Regions from separate parts of the Homo sapiens genome. Here region 2 is linked to region 1. Evidence: fine-mapped expression QTL. Tissue or cell type: whole blood. Region 1 holds a variant in brackets; the other region holds the start of a gene. All regions are shown on one strand. Distances are from middle to middle.

The links. PIP is the estimated chance that this variant, and not a neighbour inherited with it, causes the effect.
Region 2: it holds the start of FAAP20, and the variant in region 1 is fine-mapped to the expression of FAAP20 in whole blood (TOPMed, PIP above 0.99).

The regions. Positions count from the first base shown.
Region 1 is chr1:2,056,263-2,064,262 of GRCh38, forward strand. PRKCZ (protein kinase C zeta) reads left to right here. Exons shown (of 18, transcript NM_002744.6): 3 at 222-311; 4 at 3,279-3,329. Among named protein-coding and RNA genes, the nearest start is that of PRKCZ, 9.9 kb to the left of the region's middle. RefSeq lists an enhancer at 6,967-7,136. The variant A/T (reference allele first, on the strand shown) is at 4,969.
Region 2 is chr1:2,191,618-2,199,617 of GRCh38, forward strand. FAAP20 (FA core complex associated protein 20) reads right to left here and starts at 3,155. Exons shown (of 4, transcript NM_182533.4): 1 at 3,071-3,155; 2 at 2,381-2,516; 3 at 2,022-2,293. The coding sequence starts at 3,132. LOC112268219 (a long non-coding RNA gene) reads left to right here. Exons shown (of 1, transcript NR_168005.1): 1 at 1-841. RefSeq lists silencers at 2,910-2,999, 3,010-3,489 and enhancers at 4,123-4,789, 7,411-8,000.

The sequences.
Region 1 (8,000 bases):
ACTTCCCTTCCGGGGTGGCTCTGACGCTGCACCGGGGGCCAGGTGACTCCCTAGTGTGGACGGCCGTCCTTGGACCTCCCGACCCTGCCAGGAGGTGGCCAGTCTGAGCATCGGGACTTTGCCCCCCACCAGACCCTTGTCTGGTGTGCTGAGCGGGCTCGTCACAGCCCCCTTTGCCTCGGGCCTTCGGCGACGTCAGCACCGTCTCCTGCCCCACCCAGGTGACCCTTGCACGGTGTCCTCCCAGATGGAGCTGGAAGAGGCTTTCCGCCTGGCCCGTCAGTGCAGGGATGAAGGCCTCATCATTCATGGTTAGTGGCGGGGTCTGTGGTGGGCAGCTCTGGGGGGCTGTTCCTGGCTGTGGGTGTCTGCCGACTAGCTGGGGGATTTAAAATGGTTTAAAATCCTATGATGCCAGAGAATTTAGGGATGTCTAATATAATGCCATTTGGGTTTTTTTCTTTGACTTTTTTTTTTTTTTTTTGAGACGGAGTCTTGCTCTGTTGCCCAGGCTGGAGTGCAGTGGCACAATCTCAGCTCACTGCAAGCTCCGCCTCCTGGGTTCATGCCATTCTCCTGCCTCAGCCTCCCGAGTAGCTGGGACTACAGGCGCCCGCCACCACGCCCGGCTAATTTTTTGTATTTTTTGTAGAGACGGGGTTTCACCGTGTTAGCCAGGATGGTCTCAGTCTCCTGACCTCGTGATCTGCCTGCCTCAGCCTCCCAAAGTGCTGGGATTACAGATGTGAGCCACCGCGCCCGGCCTTTTCTTTGACATTTTATTAACCCAAATGAAAACTGCTCTTAACAAAGAACCCGTAAACCACTCAGAGGCTCCAGTGGCCAGCGTAGGGCCCGCGGCGCATGTGGACAGAGGGGACAGCCCCACCAGCCACCTCACCTGCCCGGTGCTCCCTAGGCCCGGCTCCAGGCTCACAGCTGTCCTCAGCTTTAAGTTCAAAGCCCCATGATGAGCTGACGCATGGGAGATGTGATTGTGATCATTTCCACTTTGTCTTTAGGTGGGCGTGGGCTCCTCCCCGGTACTGCTGGGGGTCTGCAGGGCGTCTGGGGCCTGGGAATGTGGTTCCAGCGCTGTGGCCAGCCGGTCACGTCTTTGTCTCTGTGTCCACTTCTGGCGTAGCTTGGGCTCCTTGCCAGGCGTCTGGCCATGGACGATTGAGTCCAAGATGGGACCAAAGCTCGAAACCACCCATGGATTTCTGACAGATCCATCATTCTCCTGGACACCGGGCTACCTGGTTACAACACTTAATTTTCTTCGCCCTTTATATCAATGAGGCTCTAAATTTAAAGACTAGGCCGGGTGCGGTGGCTCACAACTGTAATCCCAGCACTTTGGGAGGTCAAGGTGGGAGGATCGCTTCAGCCTAGGAGTTCAAGACCAACCTGGGCAACATAGTGAGACCCCCCCCTCTCCAAAACTTGTTTTATTTTTTTGAGACAGAGTCTGGCTCTGTCCCCAGGCTGGAGTGCAGTGGCACTATCTCTGTTCACTGCAACCTCCACCTCCCAGATATAAGCGATTGTCCTGCCTCAGCCTCCCGAGTAGCTGGGACTACAGGCATGTGCCACCACACTTGGCTAATTTTTTTTTTTTTTTAGTTGGAGTCTCGCTCTGTCGCCCAGGCTGGAGTGCAGTGACGCGATCTCAGCTCAATGCAACCTCCGCCTCCCGGGTTCAAGCAATTCTTCTGCCTCACCCTCCCAAGTAGCTGGGACTACAGGCATGTGTCATCACGCCTGGCTAATGTTTTGTATTTTTAGTAGAGACGGAGTTTCACCATGTTAGCCAAGATGGTCTCGATCTCCTGACCTCGTGATCCACCCGCCTCAGCCTCCCAAAGTGCTGGGATTACAGGCGTGAGCCACGGTGCCCGGCCTAATTTTTGTATTTTTAGTAGAGATGGGGTCTCGCCATGTTGGCCAGGCTGTTCTCAAACTCCTGACCTTAGGTGATCTGCCTGCCTCAGCTTCCTGAAGTGTTGGGATTACAGGCGTGAGCCACGGTGCCCGGCCCCAATTTTTTTTTTTTTTTTTTTTTTTGATATTCAGACGTGGTGGTGCACCTGTAGTCCCAGTTACTCGGGAGGCTGAGGTGGGAGGATTCCTTGAGCACAGGAGGTAGAGGCTACAGTGAACTGTGATTATTCCACTGCACTCTAGCCTGAGTGATGGGGCGAAACCCTGTGTCAGATAAATAAATTCATAGATGTGCCTAATCTAGTCCTTTTTATTGTGGTTGTGATAGTAAGCACATTTTGCCTCTCTATGTGGAAAGATACAGTGGCTTAAAAATTCACATTGTTTTCTAGATAAAAGAAAAATAGGGCTGGGTTCAGTGGCACACACTTGTAATCCCAGCACTTTGGGAGGCCGAGGCAGGTGGATCACTTGAGGTCAGGAGTTCAAGACCAGCCTGACCAACATGGTGAAACCCCATCTCTACTATAAATACAAAAATTAGCCGGGCGTGGTGGTGTACACTTGTAATCCCAGCTACTTGGGAGGCTGAGGCAGGAGAACTGCTGGAACCCGAGAGGTGGAGGTTGCAGTGAGCTGAGATTGTGCCACTGAGCTCCAGCCTGGGCACAGAGTGAGACTCCATCTGAAAAAAACCAACAAAAAACAAAAAATGTTTGTTTTTTTAAAGTTTCAATACTTTTATGTGTATACACACACACATAAAAAAGTAGAGATGGGGTTTCGTCATGTTGGCCAGGCTGGTCTTGAACTCCTGGCCTGAAGCCATCCTCTCATCTCGGCCTCCCAAAGTGCTGGGATTGCAGGCGTGAGCCATCATGTCCAGCCAAGTTTTAATACTTTCTAAGCACCTATTTTAATAATTTATTGTGGAAGCCCAGGATATATGTTAAAATAATTTTGAACTCTGTCTTGAGTATGAAGAAGTGGAATCTAAAGTGCTTTTAAAAGTCAGTGTTCAAAGTAATTGCATTTCTTTCCCATTTTTATATAGTTTAAAAATACAAATCAGTAGCTTCCTCTGATGGCTTTGCTGTCCAGGTCCCTCTGATTGCCTTTTACTCTAAGTTTTTCCGTGGGTTTTAAAGTCGGAGCCTGGCCTACGTAGACGCACGGGGTTTTGCGTCTCCCAGGAGCGGGCTCTCATTGGCAGTGCCACGTGCGCCTTGCGTGAAGTCCACGTGCTCAGCCTGACTGAGGCGGGACTTCCTCCGTGAGACTGTTGAGTGGCAGCCGCAGGGTCTTGACGCTGTCTCTTTCTCTCTCTTGTCCAGTTTTCCCGAGCACCCCTGAGCAGCCTGGCCTGCCATGTCCGGGAGAAGACAGTGAGTACTGGGGTTTCCTACGCCGGTCTCGCATGTTACGGGGTTGAACTGTTGATCCGTTGTGCCACGGAGGTGGCAGTGGTGCCGTTTTCGGAGGTTCACCCTCGTGGAGCGTCAGGGCAGGAGCAGCCGTGGTGACCGCAGGTGGGGTTTTCACTGCAGCTGCTGCCTGTGCGTGTTCTGGCTGACAGCACCACATGGCGGGGGACTCGCTTGGCTGGTTGGTAGCATGAGAAGTCCAGGGGTGCCCTGCCGTCTCCCTAGGAGGGAGGGGCCAGGTGGGAGGCTGGACACTGCTCCTTTGTGGCTGCCTCAGCTCACGACCACCCCTAGGCCAGTCGTCTGCTCCTCCTGGTCCCTGCTGGCCCCTGAGCTGGTGTGGGGGCTCCGTTCATCCCACACTGGCTCCATTGTTGGGAGAGGAAGGAGAGTGAGTCCCGGGGGCTGTGGCTTCAGAGGGAAGCTTCTGACCTCACTTCCTACTGCATCCCGGAGACTGTTGGGCCCTGAGCAGGTGGCTACGCTGCTCTCGGGCCGCGCATCCCATGGCTGTGCTTGGTGGGGTTCCACCCCCACTCTCCAGACCCCACACGGCCTCCAGCATCCGTGCCATGCCTTGTTCGTTGTGTGGGCAGGAGCTCCTGGACCGAGGCCGCTGCCTGTCCAGCGCAGGGCACGTGGCTCAGTGCCCTTCAGGCAGGGCTTCCCCCACCCCTGCTGCCAGGGCACACACCTCGCTGGCCTCAGGCTGGATGCTGGGTGTTGGCAGTGCCCTGTGTTGGGCGGGAACTGGGGGTGGGAGCAGATTCAGGCCAAGAGGGTGAGTGGGCAGTTGGGGCGAGAGTCTTGGCTTCCAGTGAGAAGTGGGGCTGAATAGAGGTTTGGCAGTGCTTAGCATAGGGGGCGAGAGTCTCGGCTTCCAGCGAGAAGTGGGGCTGAATAGAGGTTTGGCAGCGCTTAGCGTAGGGGAGGCCCCAGGAGCCATGGGATTTCCATGATCTGCCCGGGGAGAGGGCGGCGTGGCATCCCGGTTCCAGGCCCTCAGCCAACCGGGGTCCCTGCACCGTGGCCGGCAAGGCCGAGGAGCCATCCGGAGGTGGGCCCTGGCAGGAATGGAGCGGGTGGTCTGGGGCTGGACCTGCCGGCAGGAGGAGATGGGGTATGTCCGTGGCAGGCGGACACCACCAGGTGGTTTTGGCAGCGCAGGGCGAGTGTGAGGAGGCAGGGGGCGGGGAGGCTTTGGAGGCAGGTGGCCAGACGGTGGGCGTCAGGGCCCTGATCACCTACGCAGCTGCCCTGGTGGTGACCTTTCCCGGGACCCTCCCTCTGGGTGCCCACGCCTCACGGACCCTGGAGCACGCACCCTGGGAGGGCACGGTTCACTGCGTTTTTATAGATACATAAACACATAAATAGGACAGATACTCCCTGTGGGTGAGACGATGGTTGTCCCCTCCACAGCGCCCTGCAGCCTCATGCTGCTGCTTTATAGGAGGGGACCCACGGGCCGTGTTTATTTGCCACCTGGGTGATTTTTTGACTTGGTGACAGGACTGTGCTCCTCTGTCCCATGTGTGCTGAGACTGTGCACTCCCAGAGGTATCCACATGCGGCCAGTGTAGCCCCTGGGCGCGGGGGA[A/T]GCCCACCGTATTTCTCCGACATGTCTGCCTCTTGTCTCAACCCTGCCTGGGGGCCTGGGGTCTGCTCTTTCTGTCTACGACCTCGGCATTGCCTCTCTGCCCGTGTGGACAACCTGCCGGCCTTGCGTAGGGAAGGGAGGCCCGCATTTGCTCGGCCACTGCAGTGGAGGAAGGGGAGGTTGGGGGGTCACAGGATGTCCAGAGGCCTGAGCTCTGAAGGGGAGTGTGTCATGGGGGTGGCAGCCGAGTCACCGTGGGGAATGCGGAGAATGTGGCCAAGCCCCGAGGAAGGACCTCCTGGGACACGTGAGTAGGTCCTTGAGATGTTTACCAGGGGTGGCTCCACGGCTTCGGGGACCACTCAGCCTGGTTGGGGACATTCCGCCAGAGCCTCTGGGGCAGCCTTTGCCGAGGAGGTCAGAGGCGGGTGCTGGGGGTGGGGAGCCCTGCCCTGCCCTGTGTGCTGATGTCCACCCGGACGTGGGTTGGGTTTCATGGCGCTAGTGTCAGGAGTGTGTGAGAACACACTGCCCACTCGGGGTCCCAGGCCACCAGGGCTTAGGGGGCTGGCGCTCTCCCTGATGTCCTGTGCTTTCTTTCACTCTGACTGTGGTGCTCATCTCAGACAGGACACCCTGCTCTGGTTGCCAGTGGCCGCCGCCTGGGGCTCTGTGGTTTTAGCGCCTGTGGGGGTGTTCACAGGTGTTTTTGACCTCAGGCAGCACTGCCCAGGCTGAGGGTCAGTGAGAAGGGTCGGACTGGGAGGTGTGTACAGTGGATGGAGCACGCCAGAGGCAGACGAGGGCAGGACTGCGGCTGTACCGTGGGCCTGGTTCAGACGGCTGGACGTGCCTGTCTCACCGTCAGCAGAGGACCTTCTGGCACATTCTATGTGTGTCTATATGAGTGAATTGGTTTTATAGATTTTTAAAAAAATTCTAAAGTATACTTACAACTATCATCTCTATGTAGTTACAAACCCAAAATATATTCAAAAAGGGAACCCCGTGCCCGTCATCGGTCACTCCCTGTTCTGCCCCAGCCCCACCTCCGCTCAGCCTCTGTCTCTGTGGCCCTGCGGATTCTGGACGTTTGGTGTCCGTGGAATCCTGCATGTTTGTCCTTTTGCCTCTAGTGGCTTTCACCCGCCTGACCTTTCCAAGGTTCATCCATGATGGGGCATTCTTGGCGCTGCAGATCTTTTTTCTATTCTGGTAAAATGCACATAACATCTATTTTTGCCATCTTAACTTTTTTTTTTTTTTTTTTGGCAGAGGGGGGACGGAGTTTTGTTCTGTCACCCAGGCTGGAGTGCATGGTACAATCTTGGCTTACTACTACTCTGCCTCTCAGGCTCAAGCGGTCCTCATGCCTCAGCCTCCCGAGTAGCTGGGATTACAGGTGTGTGTCACCACACTTGGCCGAGTTTTTCTTTTTGTAGAGTTGGGGTTTTACCATGTTGCCCAGGCTAGTCTCGAACTCCTGGGCTCAAGTGACCTACCCATCTTGGCCTCCCAAAGTGCTGGGATTATAGATGTGAGCCACCGAGCCTGTCCCCATCTTAGCCATTAAAATTTAAAGGTTCAATTCACTGGTATTCGATATTCGCATTGCTGTCCAGTCATCATCACCGCCCATCTCCAGAACTCTCTTCATCTTCCCAGACTCAGCCTCTGTCTCCATGAAACACTCACTCCCCATTCTGCCTCCCCCAGCCCCCATCACCCACCCGCCGCTTTCTGTTTCTGTGACTTTGGTGACTCTAGGGGCCTCCTGTGAGTGGAATCGCACAGGATCTGTCCTTTTGTGACAGCTTATTTCACTCAGCACCATGTCCTCAAGGCGCAGCCATGCGTAGCCTGTGTCACAGTCTCCTTCCTTCTCAAGACTGAACCGCAGGCTGCTGTATGGATGTATTTTGTTTACCCATTTCTGTCAGTGGACACACGGGTGACTTCCACAGTTTAGCTGTCGTGAATGATGCTGCTGTGAGCACGGGTGCACAGTGACCTCTGGAGACCCTGCCTTCAGTTCTGGGTGTAGACCCGGAAGTGAGATTGCTGGATCATTGATCATTCTATTTTTATTCATTTATTTTTGAGATAGCGTCTCGCTCTGTCGCTTAGGCTGGAGTTCAGTGGCACGATCTCGGCTCACTGCAGCCTCCATCTCCTGGGCTCAAGCGATTCTCCTGTCTCAGCCTCCCAAGTAGCTGGGACTAAAGGCATGTGCCACCACGCCCAGCTAATTTTTGTACTTTTTGTAGAGACAGGGTTTCATCATGTTGCCCAGACTGGTCTTGAACTCCTGGGCTCAAGCAGTCTGCCCACCTCGGTCTCCCAAAGTGTTGGGATTACAGGCGTGAGCCACTGCACCTGGCCGATAATTCTGTTTAAAGAGCCGCCGTGCCATTTCCCATGGTGCCTGCAGCATTTTCCACCCCCTGCAATAGTGCACGAGCGCCACTGTCTCCGCATCCTTTCCAGCTCTTGTCGTTTTCTGTTTTTTGACAGTATCTTATGGGCGTGAGGTGGCATATCATTGTGGTTTTGGTTCTCATTTCCCTGGTGATAAGTGATGTTGAGCATTTTTTCATGTGCCTGTTGGCCATTTCTTTTTTTTTTTTTTTTTTGAGTTGGAGTCTTGGTCTGTTGCCCAGGTTGGAGTGCAGTGGCACGATCATGGCTCACTGCAATCTCCGCCTCCCAGATTCAAATGATTCTCCTGTCTCAGCCTCCTGAGTAGCTGGGATTACAGGCACCCGCCACCATGTCCAGCTAGTTTTTGTATTTTTAGTAGAGTTGGGGGTTTCACCATCTTGGCCAGGTTAGTCTTGAACTCCCGACCTCAAGTGATCCACCCACCTCGGCCTCCCAAAATGCTGGGATTATAGGCGTGAGCTGCCGTGCCCGGCTTTGTTGGCCATTTCTGTGTCTTCTTTGGTGAAATGTCTTTTCGCGTCCTGTGTCCATTTTTGAATGGGTTGTTTGGTTTTTTTGTTGGTGAGTGTTACTAGTTCTCTGTCCTGGAT
Region 2 (8,000 bases), 140 kb after region 1:
GTAATCCCAGCTACTCAGGAGACTGAGGCAGGAGAATCGCTTGAACCCGGGAGGCAGATGTTGCAGTGAGCCGAGATCATGCCACTGCACTCCAGCCTGGGCGACAGAGCGAGACACCGTCTCAAAAAAAAAAAAAAATCCCAGTGACCAACCCAGGGCCTCGCCACATCAACAGAGACAAAACGCAGCTCTGGCTCTCAACATCCTCACCCCTCACCAGGTGCCCAGCTTCCCATCCACCCACGTGACCCGCAGGTGTCTGAAAATGCACAAAATGTCCAAATAGGACCACAAGAAGATCTTAAAGACACAAAGAACATTCTACATAGTTTGTCAAATCCAGCATTTGACGGTCCTCTGGGTGACCCGGAGAACACCAAGGCTGTGAGAAATGGGAGGCCTCCTGGCAGCTCCACTCCCCAGACCCGCCTCTGCCAGGGCTCCAGGCTCAGCAGGCGCCTGTGCGGGACAGGGCGACGGTTCAAGACCAAGTCCGGCTGTTAGACCAGACCCTCCAATCCAGGCGGCCTCCCTGCTGGGGTCCTGTGCGGTCAGGAGTCCCAGGGCATCCCAGGGTGGCTGTGCAAACCCTTGTTCCCAAAGATATGGGGCTTGTCCCCCAGCTAGCCTGCCCATGCGGTGGCCACAGCCTCGGGTGAGTTCCGGTTCCAAAGTACCGGCTCTCCCTTACGATCAAGTGTTCGAATGTGCTTGAAGCATTCCAGACACACCAAGGCCTGGACCTGACTTCATTGACGCCTACTTAGGAAAAATTGAGGCAGTCTGCCAAGCTTTCAGCAACTGCTTAAAAAGCTCAAAATGGCAAGTTTTTCCTCGTGAACGTCCTTGTCTTCAGAAGTCTTTTTTTAGACTATCTGGAAAAGCAGGCGATGCAAAGACAAAAGCCCCTCCCCGGGGGGCGGGGGGCAGCACCCTGACAGCAACAAGGATCTCAGAGCTTCAGCCAAGAGCATGGATTTCTCCCCAGGGCTCCCAACAGTACCCTCTGTCCGTGATTCAGGGTCTTACTCTGTCACCCAGGCTGGAGTGCAGTGGTGCAATCATACTTCACTACAGCCTCCAATTCCTGGCTCAAGGGAATCCTCCCACTTCAGCCTCCAGAGTAGCTAGGACCACAGGCACGCGCCACCACGCCCAGGCATGTAAAGATGGGATCTTGCCATGTTGCCCAGGCTGGTCTCAAACTCCTGGGCTCCAGCAACCCACCTGCCTCAGCCTCTCAAAGGGCTGGGATTACAGGCGTGAGCCACCGTGCCCGGCCTTTTCTTTTGTTGTTGTTGTTGTTGGCTGCCAACTTTGGACTCCGGTGCCTTCGCATTCCCGAGCTGTTTTTGCTTCTGGAAGACCAGGGGCATCAGGCATGACTGAAGGACCTGGTCTCCATAAGCTCTGAAACCTGCCGCCCATTAACTCAACCAAAAGTTACGAACCAGCATCATTCACACCACCCCAGCCCCAGGACCTGCTCCGGAGGCCAAGGGCCCAGAGGTCGCCAGACACAAGGCCAGGCACTGGGCAGTTTGGGTTATCTTGTTAGCAAAACTGGGTTCCATTCCCCTTTACTTAAAAAATACATAAAAATATACGTTGGGTTTCAAAAATAAGAAAAAGCATCTCCAGACAAAAAAGACGATCTTCATTTTTAAAACCCATGACGCACTCTCGGGAAGGTGTTCCTGTGCTCTGGGCCTGGGGACGCTGGTGCCACCAGATTCCAGGATGGCCAGGTGGACCCGGGGCCAGTGCTCCCAGCCTTCCTTCTGTGCTGTTCTGTGGGCCCCCAGCCTGCCCTGCCCACAGAGCACGGCAAGCAGGTGGACCCCAGACCCGTGACAGAGAGCCACCTGGACATGCCAGGCCACAGCACTGGGCCACCTTTCCAGTGTGAAACAGGGCTTTAAAAGCCAGCGCTGAGCTCGGCCACCTCTTGACCTTCTGAACGGCTGTGGTTTCCAAACACGGATGGATAACCGGGCCGGGCGCAGGGGTGGCCTACTCACCTGGGGGCGAACTCCTTCTGGCACATGGGGCAGCTGCGCAGGGCCGCGGCACCCTCCACAGACGGCTGCTGCTCCACCCTGGGGGCCCTGCAGGGATCAGGTGCCGGGCGCTGGGGCAGGGACCTGGCGGGGGATTCCAGGTGCCCTCCTGCCCCGTGAAGCAGCCGGTAGGAACGGCCCGGGCCCCACAGGTCCGGCGGAAAGGGTGTCCAGGAAAAGGTCTTGGGTCCGACAGTGAAGACTTCAGTGGGCTCCGGGCCGCACCTGGGCTCCTGCAACACAGAGTTGTTGGGCCTTGCCCAGCGATGGCTCCCGCCCTGGAAACCCCTTCATCGCTAAGATGGGCCCAGTGGGCACACCTGTCCTGGGAAGGCGGGCAGTGAAGGCACCTCGTGATCCAGGATCAGCTCCGGGCTCACCGTGCGCAGTAGCTCGGCCCAGAGCCGCTCCCGCTCATCACCCCCCAGGAGAAACCAGGGGCGGCCGCCAGAAGGCCTGGGGCAGACAGAGAGGGCAGACAGGGGGTACTCAGTAGCGGAAACGCTATGGTGGGGAGACCCGGGAGGGCCTGGGGCAGAGAGAGCGGGGAGATGGGGGGTACTAGAGGGAAATTCGATGGTGCGGGAGGTGGCCGGCAGGGTTGGGGGAAGGGCTGCTGGGGCAGACAGTGCGGAGATGAGGGGTACTGGGGGTGGGGGAGCGGGGTGGGTGGGTGGAAATATGGGGTCCTCAGCGGGATGAGGCGATGGTTGGGGAGATTGCGGAGGGCCTGGGGAAGGTAGAGGGTTAGATGGGGGGTGCTCAGGGGAGACGCGATGATGGGAGAGGCGCGGGAGGGCCTGGGGCGGCGCGGGGGAAGCTCGGCGTGGGGTGGGGGCTCAAGGCGGGCGCTGAATGGCGGCGCGGGGTGGGGCGACGGGCGTGGGGGCCGGGCCCGGGGGCAGGGAGCCCTCCCCAGGGGGAGAATAGAGCGGGAGGCCCGCGGGGGCGCCGGGAAGCACGTGGGAGCGGGAAAACCGGCCGCGCCCCCGCCCGGCTCCCGGCCTCACCCGCCCGCCGGGCGCGGCCTCCGGCGGCTCAACCCCAGCCGCGGCCTCCGCGCCGCCTCCATCCAAGCCCGCGCCGGGCGGAAGTGAGCGCAAGCCCCGCCCCCGCCCCTCCAGGCCCCGCCCCCGCCCCGGCCCCGCCTCCAGACCTCTGCAGCGAGGCCGCCCCCCTCCGAGACAGTCGGAACCCCAGGGGCCCTGATCCCAGCCTGTAGGGAAACTGAGGCCAGGGTTCCTTCGTCCTGCACCGCACAGGGGGGCCTGGCGTGAGGGTGGGGGGCCCAGGTGGGGGAGCCCCGCCCGTGTCCCCTTTCCCGTCCGGGCAGCCCCCGGGCCGGAGCCCCCTCCGTTACCCCGATGGCTGCCCGGCCCGCCCCGGCACTGCCTCCTCCCGGCTGCACCCAACAGCTCCCGCCCCCGTTTCCGGCTCTGCGGAGCCGCCTCTCCTCCCAGGACCATTCCAGGAGTAAATAAAGCTTGAAATCCGCCGTCGCCACCACCGTTTCTTTACAAAAGGCGGGGAACTCAAGCTCCTTAACCAAGAAACCAGAGGCGAAGTGACAAAGTCCAGGTGGCTCACTTGGGCCTCAGGGGCCTGGGCCAGGGCCCTGGGGGCAGCTGAGGGGCTTTCCTGCCTGGACCCCGGGCTCTGCGACCTCAAAGTCGGCCACGTGGTGGCAGCAGCCGCCCAGGCACCCTGGTGCCACACTTGGCTGTGCCCAGTGCCCCATGGGCCCAGGCCACTTGCCTCTCCCTTGGCCCTGCTGGGCCCTGGAGTGGCTGCCACCCTCACGGAAGGAGTGGGGTCTACAGAGATCAGGGTCAGGGGCCCTCGCCAGACGCCACTCAGGGCTCTGGGACTCCTTGGCAGTTTCTGCCCTGCCCAGCCCCAGCAGCTTTGGGGCTATGCTGGGCACCCCTCCTGCAGGGCTCCCTGGCTGTTCCTACCCCTCACCTGGCCCCTCCCAGCCCCCAGTCGTCTGTGCCCTCCCTCCAGAACTCAGCTGTGGAGCCCGGCCCTGAACCCAGGCCACCCGAGTGGCCCACCGTCCTTCAAGGGGCCCCAGCCTGGAGGCCATAGGTTGGTGTTCAGGGAAAGGGTCAGCAGCAGGGCCTGGACTGGGAGGTCCCCCTCTCCCTGCATGAGTGGTTTTCTTCCGCACACCTTCCTGCTCTAGATGCTGGAGGCCCCCAGCAGAACAAGATGGAGGCACCAACCCCCAGGCCCTTCGACTTGAGTGAGCAGATGGAGATGCAGCGCTGAGTGCTGCCCGGGCAGGGGGAGGGGGCCTGGGGGAGCTGCTGCAGGCCGTGTGGTCTCAGGGGGCCCTGTGGGAGGTAGCCTGTGGCTGGGCCTGCTCTCAGGCGAGAGAAGCCCAGCCGTGGGGTCTCTGCAGCCCCACGTCCACCACATGGCAGGTGCCAGCTGACCAAGCGCTCTCAGACAGCCAGTGTCCAGGGCTCCCCGACAGTCCTGGCTGCCCTGGCTTCAGCTCCGAGCTTCTGGGTCTTTCCTGGAAATGTCACCATGGTCTGCAGGAGGGCCTTGGGTACTTCCAGGAAGACTGGTCCCAGCCTCCCAAGACAGGAGAAAAGGCCAGGCCCAGCAGCCCATGCCTGCAATTCTAGGACTTGGGGAGGTCCAGGCAGGCAGATTGCTTGAGCCCAGGAGTTTGAGACCAGCCTGGGCAACATGGCAAGACCTTGTCTCTATAAATAAAAAATTAGCTGGGCATGGTGGCATGTGCCTGTGGTCCCACCTACTTGGGTGGCTAAGGTGGGAGGATCACCTGAGCCCAGGTAGGTGGGGGCTGCAGTGAGGCAAGATCGTGCCACTGCACTCCAGACCCCAACTCAAAAAAAAAAAAAAATAGGCCAGGTGTGGTGGCTCAAGCCTGCAATCCCAGCACTTTGGGAGGCCAAGTCGGGAGGATCACTTGAGGCCAGGAGTTTGAGACCAGCCTGGCCAACATGCAGAAACCCCATCTCTACTAAAAATACAAAAATTAGCCGGGCATGGTGGTGCACACCTTTAATCCCAACTACTTGGGTGGCTGAGGCACGAAAACCACCTGAGCCTAGGAGGCATAGGTTGTGGTGAGCCAAGATCGCACCACTGCACAACAGCTTGGGCATCACAGCAAGACTCTGTCTCGAAAAACAAAAAAAGACAGAGGAGAAAAGCCCTTGGTGACAAGTGTTTGCTCAGCTCTCTGTGCCGTGCTGGGGGTGGTGGGGGGTGTTCTTGCTCCTTCCTCTCCCTTCCCCACTCTGGCTCCCAACCCCAGGGTTCTGCTGTTGGACCCGGGGGTGGCTCCTGCCTCCTCCTCCTCTATGGCCCCCACATGGTCCAGTGCCCTCCTGCCATGGGACCGGCCGGCCTCTGGATGGGCTCCGAGCCCCCTGGGACCCATCTCCTTCCCTGCCTGGGTCCCTTGGGCAGAGCCTGGGAAACTCAGGCCCCTGCCCTGTCCTGGAGGACCATGTGAGGGACACCTGTGTGTGGCTGCTGCCCCAGAACAGGGGCCTTTCTGGGCGGGAGGACCCAGCCCCCACCCCTGGAAAGCCAAACACTAGAGCTTTGCTGGGGTCTTCAGCATCCTTCCAGCCCCTCCCGGCTCCCCCATGCAGGTGCCCTGGCCACTGGGCCCAAGAGGGGCAGAGCCGAGCAGAAGCAGGGCGGGGTCTCAAGTGACCCAGACCCGGGACACCTGCGCTGCCCGGCTGGCGCAGGCTGCTTGGGAAGCTCTCGCTGCGGGTGCCCCAAGGGTAGGAGGCACGGGCCTGCAGGGGACCTCAGGGCTGGCTGAGCCTGGCTCCAGCCCGCATCACTGAAGCTGGGGGGCCCCCATCCCCTTGAGTCTTAGCCACCCCAGTGGGCCTCATTTACCCTTGGCCACCAGGGAAGAGGAGCCAGGGCCCCAGGCCAGTGCCATGGGGCAGAAGGCAGGGCCTCTGGGCCTGGTGCTTTGGGGACGCAGAGGCAGCACAACGTGTCACAGTTGTCCTCCTGGGGGCTCTTCCCCTCCAGTTTATCTGCTGCTCTGGATTAATCTCCCCTCCTCCCATGTCACCACTGGGGAGGGGGCAGTGGGGCAGGCCCCTGTGACCTACAGCCAGAGATAAGTCCACAGAGAAAGGCACTGGGGTGACCTCTGCTCTGGGCACGTGGCGGGTGCCTCCACTTGTCAGGAAGCCTGACCCCCAATCCCCTCCCGCCTGACAGCTTCCCGACAGCTGCCTGCCAGCCGAGGGCCTGGAAGGGGACCGGCCACTCAAGACTCTCAAGACAAGGAAGCATGTTCACCTCCAACAAACATACCTTGTCCTGCCTGTCCTCAAGTTATCAGCATGACACAGCGGTGCTGGTGATGGTGATGGTGGAGGTTTCAAAGTTGAACCTGATGAAAACGCTCCACTTCTTCGGAGCCATCTGCTGCTGTGGTGACGGAGTTTTGCTTTATTGGAAAATAATTTCTGGTTGGGACTGACACGTGCACAGTGGAAATGAGTTTTTTCTAAGCCAAAATTCATGTTTACAAAAGAACGTTTCAGCTGTGGGAGTTTGCATCCCAGGCAGAGCAGAAGGTGATCGAGTGGGTGGGGGCATCAGAGCCACCCATCTCCTACTCCCGCACCTGCAGACCGGTGGGCTAGGAGGCCCCTTACCCTCTGTGGCAAAAAAGGACACATTTATGGATGATGAATCAGGCCCCAGCCCACTGAGCTGGTTTCAGAAGCCAGGCTGGCCGTAGGTCAGGGAGCCAGGCCTCTCCAACTCCTTCCACCGCGGAAGAACAAGTGTCCCAGCCACTGGCATCCTCAGAGTCACCCAAATGTTCATCTCTGCCCAGCGCTGACACCCTGCAAATCAGGCTAAGACAGCGGTGACGGGCCCTGAGGCTGGCAGGCCTAAGCAGCCCGGTGGCCGTGCACCCTCCCAATTTCCAAATGAGACCTGTGGCCGACAGGCACCCTGGGCACATGCTGAAGGCACTGGGCTGCCTCCACCCCTTCCCATGTGGCTAAATGGCCCAGCACCCACACACGGTGCCCTGGCAGTGCTCACCTGCTGGCAAGGACAGCCAAAAGGCCCGGGCAGCCTTCTGACGCAGCCAGGAACTGGGCTGTGCTCCACCACACCTGCTGGCCCGTGGATGCCAGGCAGGCACGCCCACCCATAGCCAGATGTGGTGGCATTTATGGGATACGGGAGTGCCAGGCAGACAGGCTGTGAGAGACAGTTGCCTGGGAAACATCGCCAGATCTTTGGGGCAGCAGAGCAGGTGCTCGGGCCCACACATGGGGTGCAAGAGTAGGGGTGTGCCTTGGTGCCCTTGGGCACCGACAGCCTCCTCACAGCCTCAGTGGCGGGGTCATGGCACAGGCCTGCCCCTGACCCCAAGAACCAGAAAGCCAGGAGCAGCTGGGGAGGGCCCTGGCCCGGGAGAGACAGCGGTCCTGTTTCTGAACCCCATCCCAGCCATGGCCTGTGTCTGGGCCAGCATCCCCGACCAGACAGGGCCAGCCGCCCTCTCTCAAAGTCCCCAGCACCCCTTCAAGCAGTATCCGGTTCACACCCTCCCACAGCCTGTCCTCCATCCCCACGTGTCGGGCTCAGCTTCCGCACCACTCAGCCCCCACCCAGGGGCGGGCTTTTATCAGCCCCAGATCCTGCTCTGACGTCCCCCCGCCCGGAGAAGCTTCCCCAGCCCAGCCCAGCCCAGCCCAGCCCAGGCTTCTCTCTCCACCCCACTGCCCTGCTGGGAAATTGTGAGCTCAGATGCTGATTGGTCTACCCAGGAGGGCGGTCCTGTGTGCTCTGTTCCCTGGGAAGCCTCTCAGAGTGCGCGGCACCAAGGAGCCGGTCAGGGAGTGGAGACCTCTCAGGGCACCCCTCCTCTGGGGAAGGCAAGTCACAGAAACCAAGCTG